Linked DNA regions of Homo sapiens: region 1 is linked to region 2. The links come from fine-mapping of genetic effects on gene expression. A gene starts in region 2. The other region holds a variant in brackets. All regions are shown on one strand. Distances are between the middles of the regions.

Region 1 (5,378 bases), 180 kb after region 2:
TGTACCTCTAAAGTAAAATAGCACTGAAAGGATTGCAGTGAGAGGTAGCATTCTCTTGCAGTATTCCTCCAGCCCCCGAGTATCACTTCCTGGTGCTAAGCACTCACAACCCCTCTCCACCCCTGCTCCTGACAGTCACCACCATAACTTTAAATAGTATTCTTACACAGCTATTTTTTAACCACTTTAACTATTTTAAGTGTCCAATTCACTAACATTAAGTACATCTACAATGTCATGCAATCATCACCACTATCCATCTCCAGAATGCTTTCATCTTCATAAACAGAAACTCAGTCCCCATTAACCAATAACTCACCATTCCCCTTTGTCCCCAGGGCCTGGTAACCACTACTCTACTTTTTGTCGCTATAAATTTGCCTATTTTAGGTATCTCATGTAAGTGGAATCGTATGATATTTGTCCTTTTGAGACTGGGTTATTTCACTTAGCATAATGTCCTCGAGTTTCATCCACGTTGTACAGAATTTCATTCCTTTTTAAGATTGAATAATATTCTATTGTTTTTATATGTAACATTTTGTTTCTCTTCATCTGTCGATGGACATTTAGTTTTCTTCTGCCTGTGGCTACTGTGAATGATGCTGCTATGAACATAGGTGTACAAACATCTATTCAAGTCCTTGTTTTCAGTTCTGGGCAGCTATTTTTTGATGTGTCTGTTCTTACATTATCTTTTTACTTCTAGGCACGGTAAATTAGATAGACAAGGACTTAAGCATAATCAACTCCCTGCCTTTCTACATACACTCCCAGTCCCCACTCCCACATAGCTTTGGTTAAAAAAACAGTGTTTTCTCTATCGAATGTAAGTTCTCTTACCTTCCCTGGGATGGAAGGGACGAGGAAGGAGATGGTGTTCCTGGAATCCAGGGAGAACTGGAGCCTGGGAAGAAGCAGAGGGAAGCGGAGATGACGAGCAAGACTGCACCGGATGCCAGAGCCTGAAGGAAGCAGGGAAGAAAGATGCTGGCCTTCCTCTCCTTTCTCTGCTCCATCTCTTATAGCTCAAACCAGCTTGAAAGCCAGAGGGCAAAGCAGCCCAGGCCATGCATCCGCAGGGCCCAGGAAGATGAGAATGGACCAAGGAAGGAGGCCAAATGGAGCCCACCTGCACCCTTTTCTTCCTGAACTGTCCTCTCCATCGCCAACTCCCTGCCAGTACCCATGGCCCCTGCTGCCAGCAGGAGGACACCTTCCCTGAGAGCAGCCTCACTGTGCACATGGACCTGGCAGGGAGGCTCACACACACCCACACTCAGAACGAGCACAGAAGCTTCTCCCAAGGCCAGATAGAAATGGCTTTTGGATTACCCGCCATTTGGGCAGATTATCTGCACCACTGCTTCCGTCCATTACTGAGGAGAGCCTGGAGGTATCTGGACTGTCCTTGGTGTTCTGGGATGACCTTGTGGAGAGCTGATTACAGTCTGTGTGCGGAAAAAGAAGACGTCTGCCTGCCATTCTTTTCCTCACACTGGTTCAGCGACGTTTGATCTCTGGCCTGTGGCTGGAACCCATATTAAAGAGCCTGTCATTGCTTGTGATTTTTCTTGGAAGACCAGAATTCAGATTGGAGCAAGGCTTTCCATCAGAGCTGTAGAGAATCCATATTTGCCTTTGAGCCTTCCCGGCTTCAATTTAGTACTTGAGACCCCTTCTCCATAGCACTCCTCTTCACCCTCATCCCAGCTACGTGCCCCCTGGCTGTGCTCCCCCACCCCCAAGCCATTAGAAGGGCAGCTACCAACACAGCTGTAGGTGTCTGAGCAGAAAAGAAAATGAGAGCGAGAGGCAGCCTCCAAGGAGGTCAGGACATGCAAGAGTCGGTGGATACGCCAGTAATGGGAATTCGGGGTCTTCCTGGTGGGCTCCTTGGATTTGCACAGAGAACATGTGCCTCTGCCATAGCCTCCTCTCATGTCTCAAAGCCCTGACTCCAGGACTCACTTCCAGAGCCTCCAAGCTGTACCGCTCCCCTAGCTCTAGTCCTACCCATTTCTGATGTCCTGGGCCCTTTTCTCCTTTCTTCAACCACCACTGCATTCCCACATAGGCACTATCGTTTATAGATGAGAAGCTGATGCATGAAAAGGTTAAATAACTTGCCCAGTATGGCACGTCTAATAAGCGGCAGTACTAGGGTGCAAAACCAGGCTGGCTACCTCCAAAGCTTGTGCTCTTACCTGAGGGTAACTCTGCCTCCGGGGCCATTCCTCGATGGGTTCCCAGGGCTTTGGCTACTTGCTTCCTTGCTTGCTTTCCTTCTTTTTCTTTCCTTTCTTTCTTTCTTTCTTTCTTTCTTTCTTTCTTTCTTTCTTTCTTTCTTTCTTTCTTTCTCTTTCTTTTTCTTTCTTTCTTTCTTTCTTTCTTTCTTTCTTTCTTTCTTTTTCTTTTCTTTTCTTTCCTTCCTTCCTTCCTTCTTCTTTCTTGCTTTCTTCTTTCTTTCACTTTTCTTTCTCT[CTT/T]TCTCTTTCTCTTTCTCTCTTTTCTCTTTTTTTTCCTTCCTCCCTTCCTTCCTTCCCTCCCTCCCTCTCTCCCTCCTTCCTTCCTTCCTTCCCTCCTTCTTTTTCTTTCCTTCTTTCTTTCCCTTCCTTCCCTTCTTTTCCTTCCTTCCCCTTCCTCCCTTCCTCCCTCCCTCCCTTCCTCCTTTCTTTTTTGAGTCTCCTTCTGTTGCCCAGGCTGGAGTGCAGTGGCGTGATCTTGGCTCACTGCAACTTCCACTTCCCAGGTTCAAATGATTCTTGTGCCTCAGCCTCCCGAGTAGCTGGGATTACAGACGTGCACCACTACACCTGGATAATTTTTGTATTTTTAGTAGAGACGGGGTTTCGCCATGTTGGCCAGGCTGGTCTTGAGCTCCTGGCCTCATGTGATCCGCCCACTTCGGCCTCCCAAAATGCTGAGATTACAGGTGTGAGCCACTGCACCTGGCCTGTTGTTTGCTTTCTAAGTGTTGGGAAATATTCCTGCTGTCTAAAGAAATAGTGAGGCATTAGCATTCAGGTGAGTTTTGTTTTCAAGTATGACTTATTATATAATAATAACAAATTATTCTGAATGTGCTTTTTAAACATTGTTTTACTGCACTGGAGATTGGGTTAAAACAGAGGTTAGCAATTTTTTCAGACCGAAGAGTCCAAGTGCACTGAAATCCAGAAAACATGGTCAACAAAGTTGCCAGATGAGAATGCTGATTTTTAACAGAAAAATAAACAATTGCATATGAATGATACTGATATGGGGATGATTAAGGGAATATACTGAATATGGAACCTATCAATTTTATTCTATGAAATTGAATTGGTGGGGCCTTTGCCTTTTGCTTTTTCAAAGTTTTCATAACTTCCTTACCATGCCTGTCAGACCCTAAAGGGAGTGACTGGGCCCTGTGGGTAACAGAGGAGCTGGTCTTGTCAACAAAAAGGAAACTACACTCAGGACAAGAAGGGGTCGCTTGGTCCCTGAGGTGTGCATCTGGTCTGTCTGTGCCAGGTGGAGGGAAAGCTGAAATTATAGGATGAGCGGTGGGGCTGTCGTGAAGGCCCCAGGATTTTCCAAAAGAAGTCCTTTCCCAGGAGGAACAATGGTGCTTTGCAGGTGACATCAAACCCAAAGTGGGTGGGCTGGGGTTGGAGGGTCCACAGGGACCAGGGAATTGGAATTCCCCCTCTCCTTTCCCCACCCACATTGGGGCTCAGCTTCCCACCTGCTCTCCTGGAGACAGTCAATACCAGGAGACCCTGTCTTGCAGAGGCTAAGCATGGTAGAGGACTGAGACATGCTCAGCATTGGTGGACAGCAGGGGATGGGTCAGAAACATGGGTCAGGGAGAGACATGTGGTCCTGGGCTTTGGAGGCTTTAGCCTGGACTCTGGTAGGAGTCTCTGATCCTGGGAGAGCAGAGCCTGTTTTTTTCTTTCCCTCTACCCTCCAGTGGCCCCATCTCTCTCTTTCCCACTGGAAAGAAACTTGTCTAGTATGGCACATCTCCATAGCGTCCTCTCACACTCAGCCTGGGAGGCCAAGTCTTCTTTCTTTCCTAGCTTCTCCCTCAATCTTCATTCCCTCTTAACAGCAAGAAGGAAACTTTATTGGTTGATGTGCAGAAAGGTTCAGAGGTACTGCCGGGTTCAGGTGCAGGTTCAGCTGGAGTTGCCAGAACCCAAGACCCCTCAGCTCCTCCCACAGCCTTCTCCAAGAGTTGGCCTCATTCTCGAGGCATGGGCGTGGGAAGGTGGCAGCAGAAATGCCAGCCCATGTGCTTTTAGATTCAAATCTGTCAGGAAAGATTGAGATTCTCTGCCCAAATAAGAGTCTAGAACGGAGTTTAATTCGCTCTGATTTGGGTCATGTACCCACGGCAGAAGCAAACATTACTGCCAGGGGAATGGGCTGCTCTGATTGGCTGGTATTGGAGCAAGGGCAGAATCAACTCCACTTAAGCCATATGGAATGACAATCAGGAGAGATGGAGAGACAGCTATTGTTGGAAAAAGAGGGATGCTGGATGCTGGAGAGGCAAGCCCCAAATGGCCTCCATGCACCCAGTTCCTCCTGCCTCCGAGTCCCCCATGACTGCCCTGTAAATTCAGATCTGGCCCCTGTGACCCAACCCTGGTCTGGATCACTTGGCCAGTGCCCTTGGCACCTGCCTTAACCCCTTAGGTAAGAATCTGTCAGGCTGTCTATTTACTGTAAAAATTAGCACTGGATACTAAAGAAATCATGCCAAAAGCTTTCAATAATGGAGAAGATTTATATGTAACACACACACACACAATTTATTTCTTTTGAGTCTGATTCCTGAGGGTGGAAGCTTTGAAAATTTCACGACTGTGTTTAGAGGAACCCATAAAGACACTTTAGCTGGTCATGGCCTTCCTGCTTAAAGATCTTATCAGGAATTTTACTGGAACTTGGAGGTTTATTATTACTCATTGTTTGACTGTAAGGCTTCCCTCTTAAGAGTCTGGGGTGAGGCCAAGCACCATGTCTCAGCATTCTTTAAGCTTTCTATGATTTCACATTCCATAGTGCAAGGCTTATTAAAGTGGATTCCATAGGAGCTGACAGGAAAGCTTCTCTGCCTGCCACAGGGTGGAATGACAGTGCTTCTGTGGAAATGTGGATGCGTTCCTCGGTCAGGATTTGAACCCTTGAATAGGGATCACCTATTATGCACTGTGGTATTTTAAGCACCTGACACAATTTGGAGGATTGCCGGTGGAACACGTTTTTGGAACACATGCAAATTTATGATTTGACCGTCAGCCAGTCTGGTCGTCTCTATTCTTTGCAGACCACCTCTAGTTCTCTGGGTTTTGTAGCTTAATTTATACAGCCTTCCAATTGTCTGG
Region 2 (5,378 bases):
TTGAAAGAGCAAATGTCAATCTTTCAGATTTAAATTTCTTATAGTGGAATGTAGTTTATACTTACAACAGAACAGTTATGAAACTTTATTTTGAATGACATCTAACCTACCATATTATTTGTTTCTCTTTCTTTAGACTGGTACTGTTAAATTTGCCAAAGGCCAAGACATAGATCTTTGGTACATATTTAATTACCTCTAGGAAAAAACATTTACATGGCTTACACCAGTTGCAAGATGAATAAGGAGAGGTATATGAATGTTATTGGAGTCAATGGGCCCAACTCCTCTAGTTAGGTCTCAGCCACTCCACCCTCCAAATTTGGAATCCAAACCATATAGCAGCAAAAGGTCCTTCTGAGTAGTCGAAATAGATGTTCCAGAGTCTATAAATGTCATAGTTTTGCGCCTCAGACTCATTGGATTCAATGGTAGCATCCTTTGTGGACTCAAGCTTTACAAATGTGTCTGTCAAACAAGCTTGTCTGGCTTCTAATGCACCGGTTAGGAGAGCAGGTTAGAAAGGCAGAGAAGAGCCTCACAAGGTAAGAGGCCACACCACACAGTGGCATGGGTTCTGAGTCCCCAGGGAAGAGCAGGGCTCCAGGAGAGCAGTCTGGTCTTTGGCTTCTGTAGATTTCGGAGACATCTGAGGACATCATTCTGTTTTGGCAACTGATGTAATGGTGACCTTGAGTCACAATGAAAAAGTTAAATTGTGAGTATAGTTTATTTAAGAAGGCAGAAGTCTGGTTATCTGTTTCTGCAAGTCAAACCACCCTGCAACTTAGTAGCTTACAAAAACAGTGACCATTTGTTGTCTCATGATACTTTGGGTTGTATGGGCTCCTGTGGATGCTGCTTCTGCTCAGTTGGCTGGGGTTGCAGTCATCTGGAGGCTCGACTGGGCTGGGGCATCTTAGGCAGCTTGTTCACATGGTTGAAGGTTTATGCTGCTGTGGACTGGAAGTTCAGCTTTGGTCTCTTCCCGGTGGCTTGGGCGTGGGTACCTCATAGAATGACAGCTGGTTCTAAAGAGGAGTGTTTCAAGCATGGGAATATCTTGGAAGTGATTCAGTATCACTTAACTGCATTATTTTAGTCATAGTGACACTGGTCACAGGGCCAGCTCAGATTCAAGGGGAGAGGAAATAGACTCTACCTCTCCATTTGGAACAGTGGCAAATAATCTGTGGCCATCTTTAATTCCACTATAACAGAGAAGTGGTTAAGGCTAATGTGTGTGGATACATTGCACAATGTGTGATGAAGGGGCCAGGTAAGTCTCAGGTCTTTAGAAAGAAGACTATTCAGAAAACTTGATTATTTCCTCAGGGTTCAAAGTGGTCAGTGCTTTATAAGTAAGAATTTACTGTAATTATAAGATTATTACACTCTTAGGGAGTATTATAAATAAGAGAAACATTTCTTTTTGGTAAAAATAATAGCTGTTCTTTTTTTAAGGTAAAACAGTTAAGAAATACTACCTAAGGCAATCATTGGTTATAATATTTAATAGCAATTTAATTTACATGTAGGCTGAGAACCCTTGGAAGGGATTCTAATCAGAACAAAAGAAAAATAGAATATAAAATTAAATTTTAACTTCTCTGAAGAGTGGAATTTTCTGATTCTTGGATACCTTCCCAGAATTAGCTTGTGCGATGATCTCAAGCTACCATGCTTCCTGGAGCTATTCTGTGGGTCTACTCTCACCTTATAGAGGCAGTGAAGAGTTCTGAAGTGAATCCATATTACAACATTTCTATTATGCCTTTGTAATTCCATTTTAATTTTGAAACACTGGCTTTTAGATGAATTTTTAAGAACTTTACTTGGGAAGAGCTATGAAGTTCTTCTGCCTCTCTGGTTACTTACCTCTAAACTAGCTTGTTCATCTGTGAATTTTAAAACTTTCTATCCTGCTCTTGCTGCCATCTTCAAAATATCCTTTATGTGTGTATCTAGTGCCTAGTTTACTCATCTAATAAGCCCTTAGAAGACACTCAGCAAATGTTTTTTGAGTGATTGACTGTTGCCCTGGAGCCTGTCTTGACCAATAGAGAGAGAGCTTTTCTTATCACTTACTAATTAGGAACTAGCTGTTGAGCACACTGGCTCCAACCATCTAAAGCAATAATTAAGGTAAACCAGGTGATCCGAAAAGTGCAGTAACTTACAAAATATCATGAACTGTATTTTATTATTCTTTTTAACTTGAGTTTTCTTTTTCATTTTTATCTGGTTAATGTGAAAAGGAGCTTATTTCCAGCAACACTAATGGAATTTTTCTTTTTAATCACTAGTAATTGGAAGGGGAAAGACCCTTCACCTGACATGTGGGGACTGAGTTATTGGTATAAATCTTGCTCTTTCTTGGGTGATTTCTCTTCTTCATTTAAATTAAAAGTTGTCCTTAATGGCCTCTTGGAGCTGACATGTTGGGCTCAAGACCCAGGAATCTCAAGAAATATGCTAGAGATTTCTGGTTTAATTAAACAAAAGACCTTATTAATAAAAGCCAGCCAGCTGGGCATGGTGGCTCACATTTGAAATCCCAGCACTTTGGGAGGCCAAGGAGGACAGACCACTTGAGCCCAGGAGTTCGAAACTAGCCTGGGCAACAAGGCAAAACTCCGTCTCTACAAAAAAATACAGAAATTAGCTGGACATAGTGGTGTACACCTGTAGTCCCAGCTACTCAGGAGGCTGAGGCAGGGGGAAAACAGCCTGGGAGGTTGAGGCTGCAGTGAGCCATGATCACGCCACTGCATCCAGCCTGGGTGACAGAGCGAGACCCTGTCTTTTTTATATATATATAAAATAAAAGCCAACCATAACTACATATGGAAGGAAATAATAAATTCATTCCCCTCACTTGGCTTTCTAAACTGACATAAGCAAAAGGAAAATGAAAAGTTTTAAAAATGTTTTTCATTAAAGTAAAGGATTTCTTAATAATAGATTTTCCTGTAGCCTGTGTTAGAGGAACACTCACCAGGTCATCACAGTTCTTTCCTTTTATAGGGTCCAGCTCCTCTTTTGACATGGGATTAGGTGACCACGTGATTGATTAGCCTCACAATCACAATCCTGTCCCTCCTGTTGCTTTCCATTCACAGTTGATCAAGACGCAGAGCCTGAGATAGAGGTCAGGCAGAGAGCACGAGGCCCAGTGCAGAATCATTTTCTGAACCAGCCAGGAAATACCGGAACCCACCAAACTTTAAACACCAGCCTAAATTATTCCTGTTCTTTTAAGCAGGCAGCAGAAATGACAGAAACCCGTTAACAGAAAAAAAAAAAATAATGCTTTTCATTTGAACTCCTGTGCATTTTCTTTTTAACTTATATGTGTTCCTAATTTTCCTTACTCTTTTTGTTTGTTTGTTTCTTAGTGTGGTTTATTGACAATCATTTACAATGCCGAAGAGTGCTGTAGTGAGCCAGCACAGTGGGTAACACAGCAACGGAGAACAGATGCAGGTTTGAGGAATTTAACTTGCTAAAACCTTGAACTGAAGTCTTAGAGATTGGAACATACGGGTTTGTATAAATAGGCTTTTAAGCCCTGTTTGCAATGGGTTACTGATAGGAGAAACTTGCTTGTGGAATGTCAGCTGCGTGAGCTCACTGTCAGACAAGATGGAAGAAGAAGGGCTGGAGTGTCCAAACTCTTCCTCTGAAAAACGCTATTTTCCTGAATCCCTGGATTCCAGCGATGGGGATGAGGAAGAGGTTTTGGCCTGTGAGGATTTGGAACTTAACCCCTTTGATGGATTGCCATATTCATCACGTTATTATAAACTTCTGAAAGAAAGAGAAGATCTTCCTATATGGAAAGAAAAATACTCCTTTATGGAGAACCTGCTTCAAAATCAAATCGTGATTGTTTCAGGAGATGCTAAATGTGGTAAGAGCGCTCAGGTGAGTAACCACTACAAAAAATAATTTGCTGTATGTGTTGATTTTTTAATTGTTATTTAATGACATGTCACAGCCTAGTGTTCTAATAATAGTGTCTAAAACAAAAAACAAAACATTATTCAGATAAAATAATTAAATCACGTACCTAATTTTATTAATTTTACTAATACTAGCTGAAAAGTTAATAATATCTATGTAGAAATTAATTGTGTTTAGGGTACCACTGAATTGTCTATAGAGCAGTATTAAAATTACTCAAATGATCCTAGTATTAAATTTACTCAAATGATCCATTGTGTATATGATATTTTAAAAGATGTGATGCGTGTTATTTCCTCAGCATGGGTATGGGGATTAACTGCTCTGTTTCAGTGCCCAGTGGTCTGAGAATCCAGATATGTGGATGTGCTTGCTGGTGAAGCTGGCTGAGCTACTGAAATCAAAAGCACAAGGAAATTCTGATTTTCCTGACTATAAGAAATAACTGAGCAACTAAATATGATCCAGGCCTGGGGCCACACACTTTGGGGTCTAAGATGGGGGAAAGAATTAGGATCATTAAGAGATAAACCTAGGGATATTAAAATATTAAAGAGTTGGAGCAGGCACAGTGGCTCACATCTGGAATCCCAGCACTTTGGGAGACCAAGGTGGACAGATCATTTGAGCCCAGGAGTTCAAGACCAGCCTGGGCAACATGGCAAAATGCCGTCTCTACAAAGAAGTAGCCGGGCATGGTGCTGCATGCCTGTCGTCCCAGCTACTTGGGAGGCTGAGGTGAGAGAATCACCTGAACCTGGGAAGTTGAGGCTGCAGTGAGCTGTGATGATGCCCCTGCATTCCAGCCTGGGCGATGTGAGTGAGAGACCTTGTCTCAGAAAAAAAACAAAAAAAACAAGGAGTTTGTTTGAGCAAAGAATGACTCATGAATTACGCAGCACTCAGAACCATTGGAGGTTAGTGAGCCCCATTCTAGCAGCAAGGGCAGTGAGCTTTTATAGGCTGAACATGAAAGTAAGACAAAAGACATTTAAATTGGTTAGAGTGGAAAGTTCCGAGTTAGGGAATAGTTGGCAGTTTCTGATTGATAAAGTCTAGTATGGTTTTACTGTTTACATTGGACTTTAGTTTGCTTATGTGGGACCTTCTAGAGCTCTGTCATTGCCTCAGCCTAATGGCCTCTCAATTAAAGTTTGTTTGTTTGTTTAACGGGATAGTGGGCCAGGTGCAGTGGTTCACACCTATAATCCCATCACTTTGGGAGGCTGAGGCAGGAGGATTGCTTGAGTCCAGCAGTTTGAGACCAGGCTGGGCAACATGGCAAGATCCCAACTTTATAAAAAATTAAAAAATTAGCTGGGCATGGTGGTGCGTGCCTGTGGTCCCAGCTACCCAAGAGGCTGAGGCAGAAGGATCACTTGAGCCCATGAGGTCAAGGCTGCAGTGAGCCA

Evidence for each region. PIP is the estimated chance that this variant, and not a neighbour inherited with it, causes the effect.
Region 1: its variant is the best candidate, but not a certain one, in a credible set for the expression of DHX32 in whole blood (INTERVAL, PIP 0.63).

Annotation. Positions count from the first base shown.
Region 1 is chr10:125,694,653-125,700,030 of GRCh38, reverse strand. It overlaps LOC283038 (a long non-coding RNA gene), which reads right to left. Exons shown (of 5, transcript NR_033848.1): 3 at 844-907. Among named protein-coding and RNA genes, the nearest start is that of TEX36, 14 kb to the right of the region's middle. The variant CTT/T (reference allele first, on the strand shown) is at 2,485.
Region 2 is chr10:125,879,092-125,884,469 of GRCh38, reverse strand. DHX32 (DEAH-box helicase 32 (putative)) reads left to right here and starts at 3,178. Exons shown (of 11, transcript NM_018180.3): 1 at 3,178-3,927. The coding sequence starts at 3,646. RefSeq lists an enhancer at 2,866-3,588.